2 linked regions of the Homo sapiens genome follow. The protein of the gene in region 1 purifies or fractionates together with the protein of each later gene. This does not show direct contact. Each region holds a gene or a part of one and is shown in the gene's direction. Other genes may lie near its edges. The genes, in order: IRAK1BP1 and SPECC1L.

Region 1 (2,851 bases):
AGAAGAGAAAAAAGCACCTTTGAAATTCCAAACAAATTATATTGTACTTGTATCTTTTTACCTATTTTTATACTTTTTATAATGTTTACGTTTGTCCTGAATATATATATATATATATATATATATATATATATGGTATAGGAGATAAGCTATTTCTTTCCAAAATCTATAAATCTTTGAATATAGTCCCACAGAATACTTATGTTCACTTTCTATTTTTAAAAGACTACTCTGAAAAACACTCTTGGATAATAAATGTATTATGTGCATACTTATATACTGACAGTTCATACAAGCACATGTGTAATATTTCTATTATAAGGACAGATATTGACCCTTGCATTTCATAATTTTTAAAGATATTTAAGCTAAAATTTTCTCAGCCACATTTTTATATAAAACCAAATTTTATGTAAAAACTAGGCTTCAATAAGTTAGCTAAATTTTTTAAATTGTAAGACAAAATTTTTATGGAAAAGAATTCCTATATCCCATCAAACCTAATAATTTTCCACAACTAAAAATGAGTATAAATACATAATTTTAAGTGCATCCTGTCAGGTCTGATATTTAATTTTACTTTAGTTAGAAGCTAAGTAGTTACCCTGTTACTTCTTCATGGATGCTAACAGAAGACTTGAGATTCCCAGACAGAAACAAAGGACTATTACTCATGGCACAACAAGGAGCATGAGCATCAGCACATTCTCATTGCTTCCCCTTGTCCCAGGTCCCATGGGGGCAAAATGATATGGCCATATGCAATATGGCTACATATACAGCAGGCTTTTGTTGTAGGTAAAGAATACTGAGCTTGGAGGGTTCACTGCTTTTTATCCATGAACAGAAGCAAACCTGCTCTTTGCCTCATCCCTTATAGATGCTCACTCAAAACTCAATACTGAGAAATGGCCCAGGTAAAGAACAGCCAAGGTCTTTCATGCTTGCCACACCCAGCAATATGTTTAGGAAGGTGAAGTCTACTGAGGGCTATCTCACATCTAACAGTTTCTTTACTAGGACCAGAGACCATTTTGGTAAGATGCAGATAACAACCCCAACCTTAACAACTTCACAACATGAATAGAAATAGTGATAAATAATTCATAGCTTTTTACAAAAGAATAATGAGGTATAATAGGAAAATGTTTTGATGCCAAAAATAAAAGAGTTAATGTTTGGATCGGACTCCAACAGGGCTCCTTAGAGTGATACAAATACAAAGCAAACGATATGTGTAATTTAAAATTTCCTAGTGCACATGTTTTTTTATTTTTCTTTTTCGAGATGGAGTCTTTCTCTGTCGCCCAAGCTGGAGTGCAGTGGTACGATCTCAGCTCACTGCAACCTCTGCCTCCTGAATTTAAGCGATTCTCCTGCCTCAGCCTCCCAAGTAGCTGGGATTACAGGCGTGAGCCACTGCATCTGGCCCTGTACGCACATTTTTAAAAATAAAACTTTAAAAAAGAAACAGTTGAAACTAATTTTAATAACATTTTATTTAACCAAATATATCAAAAATATTATTTCAGCATGTAATCAGTATTTTTTAAATTGAGATATTTGTTTTATCTTCAAAATTCAGTGTATATTTTTACATAATAGCACATCTCAATTCACATGCTAAATTTTCATCAGAAATATTTTATCTGTATTTAAATTTCCTAAAATGTACAGTTGAAAAAAAGAGATTCACATACCCAGGTTGTTCTAGCATGCCTAAAAAATCTTGTAACTGGATCAAGTATCAGTTTTTAAATTAGTTAAAATTAAATAAAATTTAAAATTTAGTTCCTCAGTCACACTAGCCATATTTCAAGTACTTGAAGGCCACAAATGGCTTGAGACTACCTTGCTGAACAGACCAAGGTCAAACACTGAGATAATAATGATTCTTAAGGCCATTTGAAAGTTAACAGCAAGTATGTATTACTGCTATCTACAGTAAGAATTACATTTTATCTACAGGCAATCATAAGCCATGTCTGTTATGCAGCATAGGCTTTCCATTCTCTATACATCTAGGTCATAGAGTTTTTCCATTGATAAATCTGGATGTTTATATACCAACAGTACTTTCTTACAACATATTCCAGTATATAGTGTCCAGCTTCACCCACTTTTTAAAGTGGCCCTGAAACAATTTTATTCATCTTATTGGAGTGTTGCTGTAGGGGAAGAGTAGAAGCTAAGAAGAGTTTGAGTTCAACACCATTATATCCAAATCCTGACCTTACTACTGGAATGTAAGCTCCTTGAAAGTGGAGATCTTGTCTGTCTTGTTCACAGTTGTGTTCCCAGCCCCAGAGGTAGTCTCAGGGCCAATATCAAGTATGCTCTCAAATATTTGCTGGGAAAATTTACTAGCTGGATAAAAGGCAAGTTACTTTAATCTCTTTAATCTTCCTTTGTCCTTACAAATGAAAGAGACTAATAGTACTTAACCTTGCAGTGTTATTATAAGGATTAAAGTTGATAAATATATGATCATGAGAACAATTGCTAGCACATAACGGTCACTCTGAAAATAGTAGCTGATATATCAGCTGCATTGTTTGATTATTGTTGGCTCAATTAAAAGTTGGCTTTTCCAAATCCTCCATTAGGAAGAATTTTTAAATAGCCATATTGAAAATAAAGTTGTCAGAAAACCAATGTAACATATGTTGAATTTTTATTACCAAAAAGAAGTTACTATCCAGTTGTACAGAAAAGTAGAATGAGGTTGTGCATCAAGAAAAAAATTGTTCGTTCTCAACAAAAATTTAATCACATGGGTAGTTTTTTTTTTTTTAGCTATGGGTTCATGCTGTATTTGGTTGCATCATATTTGATAAAGAAGCTTCCAACT
Region 2 (3,825 bases), on another chromosome or scaffold:
ATGGCTTTGTACGTTTATTTTATTTTGCTGGGGATGTCATAACAAAATACCACAGACTGGATGGCTTAAGCCACAGAAATTTATTTTCTCAAATCTGGAAGCCAGAAGTCTGAAATGAGGGTGTTAGCAGATTTACTTTCTCCTGAGATCTCTTTTTTGTCTTGCAGATGGCTGCCTTCTCTGTGTCTTCCCTCTGTGTGTGTGTCCTCATCTCCTCCTCTTACAAGAACGCCAGTCATGTTGGATTAGGGCCCACCCTAATGACTTCATCTTACGTTAATTACCTCTTTAACTTCATTATCCTGTCTCCAGGTGCAGTCACATTTGAGGTTTTGGGGTTAGGGCTTCAACATATTAATTTTGTGTGTTTTGTGCGGGCACAGTTCAGCCTATAACAACATCCTTATTCTTCAGTTCATCTGCTCTACCTTTACCTCCTCCAGTGACTTTCCTAAGACTGTTTGATTTCCATGTATCAATTCACTTGTCTTTACCTCAGATTATTCTGTCTACTCATTACAGTAATCCAGAGAAGAATTTTTCTTCTTTTATCTTTCAAACATGAACAGATTTTCTTTTTATTTATTTATTTATTTATTTATTGATCATTCTTGGGTGTTTCTCGCAGAGGGGGATTTGGCAGGGTCACAGGACAATAGTGGAGGGAAGGTCAGCAGATAAACAAGTGAACAAAGGTCTCTGGTTTTCCTAGGCAGAGGACCCTGCGGCCTTCCGCAGTGTTTGTGTCCCTGGGTACTTGAGATTAGGGAGTGGTGATGACTCTGAACGAGCATGCTGCCTTCAAGCGTCTGTTTAACAAAGCACATCTTGCACCGCCCTTAATCCATTTAACCCTGAGTGGACACAGCACATGTTTCAGAGAGCACAGGGTTGGGGGTAAGGTCACAGATCAACAGGATCCCAAGGCAGAAGAATTTTTCTTAGTACAGAACAAAATTAAAAGTCTCCCATGTCTACCTCTTTCTACACAGACACGGCAACCATCCGATTTCTCAATCTTTTCCCCACCTTTCCCCCCTTTCTATTCCACAAAACCACCATTGTCATCATGGCCCATTCTCAATGAGCTGTTGGGTACACCTCCCAGACGGGGTGGTGGCCGGGCAGAGGGGCTCCTCACTTCCCAGTAGGGGCGGCCGGGCAGAGGCGCCCCTCACCTCCTGGATGGGGCGGCTGGCCGGGCGGGGGGCTGACCCCCCCAACCTCCCTCCCAGACGGGGCGGCTGGCCGGGCCGAGGAGCTCCTCACTTCCCAGTAGGGGCGGCCGGGCAGAGGCGCCCCTCACCTCCTGGACGGGGCGGCTGGCCGGGCGGGGGGCTGACCCCCCCACCTCCCTCCCGGAGGGGGTGGCTGGCCGGGCGGTGGGGCTGACCCCCCCACCTCCCTCCTGGACGGGGCGGCTGGCTGGGCGGGGGGCTGACCCCCCTACCTCCCTCCCGGACGGGGCGGCTGGCTGGGCAGAGGGGCTCCTCACTTCCCAGTAGGGGCGGCCGGGCAGAGGCGCCCCTCACCTCCCGGATGGGGCGGCTGGCCGGGCGGGGGGCTGACCCCCCCCACCTCCCTCCCGGACGGGGCGGCTGGCCAGGCGGGGGGCTGACCCCCCCCACCTCCCTCCCGGACGGGGCGGCTGGCCGGGCAGAGGGGCTCCTCACTTCCCAGTAGGGGCGGCCGGGCAGAGGCGCCCCTCACCTCCCAGATGGGGCGCTGGCCGGGCGGGGGGCTGACCCCCCAACCTCCCGGACGGGGCGGCTGGCTGGGCAGGGGGCTGACCCCCCCACCTCCCTCCCGGACGGGGCGGCTGGCCAGGCAGAGGGGCTCCTCACTTCCCAGTAGGGGCGGCCGGGCAGAGGCGCCCCTCGCCTCCCGGACGGGGCGGCTGGCCGGGCGGGGGGCTGATCCCCCCACCTCCCTCCCGGACGGGGCGGCTGGCCAGGCGGGGGGCTGACCCCCCCATCTCCCTCCTGGACGGGGTGGCTGCCCGGCAGAGATGCTCCTCACTTCCCAGACGGGGTGGCTGCCGGGCGGAGGGGCTCCTCACTTCTCAGACGGGGCGGCTGCTGGGCGGAGGGGCTCCTCACTTCTCAGACAGGGCGGTTGCCAGGCAGAGGGTCTCCTCACTTCTCAGATGGTGCGGCCGGGCAGAGACGCTCCTCACATCCCGGACGGGGCGACAGGGCAGAGGCGCTCCCCACATCTCAGATGATGGGCGGCCGGGCAGAGACGCTCCTCACTTCCTAGATGGGATGGCGGCCGGGAAGAGGCGCTCCTCACTTCCTAGATGGGATGGCGGCTGGGCAGAGACGCTCCTCACTTTCCAGACTGGGCAGCCAGGCAGAGGGGCTCCTCACATCCCAGACGATGGGCGGCCAGGCAGAGACGCTCCTCACTTCCCAGACGGGGTGGGGCCGGGCAGAGGCTGCAATCTCGGCACTTTGGGAGGCCAAGGCAGGCTGCTGGGAGGTGGATGTTGTAGCAAGTCGAGATCACGCCACTGCACTCCAGCCTGGGCACCATTGAGCAATGAGTGAAGGAGACTCCGTCTGCAATCCCGGCACCTCGGGAGGCCGAGGCTGGCAGATCACTCGCGGTTAGGAGCTGGAGACCAGCCCGGCCAACACAGCGAAACCCCGTCTCCACCCAAAAAATACGAAAACCAGTCAGGCGTGGCGGCGCGCGCCTGCAATCGCAGGCACTCGGCAGGCTGAGGCAGGAGAATCAGGCAGGGAGGTTGCAGTGAGCCGAGATGGCAGCAGTACAGTCCAGCTTCGGCTCGGCATCAGAGGGAGACCGTGGAAAGAGGGGAGAGGGGAGAGGGAGAGCCAGATTTTCTTTTTTATAAGGATTTTTGATTTAGATAAGGATGTGGTACCACTTGCAGAACTAGGGAAAGGAATTAATGTTGGGGAAAAAAGTTACCCCAGCCAGGTGCGATGGTGCACGCCTGTAATCCCAGCACTTTAGGAGGCCAAGGTGGGCAGATCACTTGAGCCTAGGAGTTCAAGACCAGCTTGGGCAACATGCCCAATGTGGTGAAACCCCGTCTCTACAAAAAATACAAAAATTAGCTGGGTATGGTGGCGTGTGCTTGTAGTCCTAGCTACTCGGGTGGCTGAGGTGGGAGGATCACCTGAGCCTGGGAGGTAGAGTTGCCGTGAGCTGTGATGGCACAACTGCACTCTAGCCTGGGTGACAGAGCCTCAAAAAAAAAAAAAAAGTTATGCCATCTTTTTCCATTTTTGGCCTCCGTATACAGTTGTTTATCCCAGTCTGGTTACTCTTGCCTTTGATATCTGTCACAGATTTCTTGCCTCTTCTCTGTTCTTACTGCCGCCCCTGAATGTGGGACCTCTTTTACCTCATTGATCTACCTGCCCACATTCCTCCTCTGCTGCTCTGCTTTCTTCCTTATGTATTCCACTTAGAATCTGTATTAGTCCATTCTCATGCTGCTGTAAAGAACTGCCCCAGACTGAGTAATTCATAAAGAAAAGAGGTTTAATTTACTCACAGGTCCACAGAGATGGGGAGGCCTCTGGAAACTTAGAATTATGGTGGAAGGGGTAGCAGGCACATTCTTCTCCACATAGTGGCAGGAAGGAGGAGAATGAGAGCCAAGCAAAGGGGAAGCCCCTTACCATCGGCTGTCATGAGAACTCACTATCACGAGAACAGCGTGAGGGTAACTGCTTCCATGATTAAATTACCTCCCAACAGGTCCCTCCCGAAACACATAGGGATTATGGGAACTACAGTTCAAGATGAGATTTGGGTGGGGACACAGCCAAACCATATCAGTATCCTCTA

Evidence for each region.
Region 2: the proteins of IRAK1BP1 (region 1) and SPECC1L purify together in Homo sapiens (affinity purification with mass spectrometry; one large-scale study listed by BioGRID and IntAct). This does not show direct contact.

What each region holds. Positions count from the first base shown.
Region 1 is NC_000006.12:78,898,312-78,901,162, forward strand, and holds part of IRAK1BP1 (interleukin-1 receptor-associated kinase 1-binding protein 1), read left to right. Parts: coding exon 1-23; 3' UTR 24-2,851. UniProt on the Homo sapiens protein: Component of the IRAK1-dependent TNFRSF1A signaling pathway that leads to NF-kappa-B activation and is required for cell survival. Acts by enhancing RELA transcriptional activity.
Region 2 is NC_000022.11:24,315,698-24,319,522, forward strand, and holds part of SPECC1L (cytospin-A), read left to right. Parts: intron 1-3,825. UniProt on the Homo sapiens protein: Involved in cytokinesis and spindle organization. May play a role in actin cytoskeleton organization and microtubule stabilization and hence required for proper cell adhesion and migration.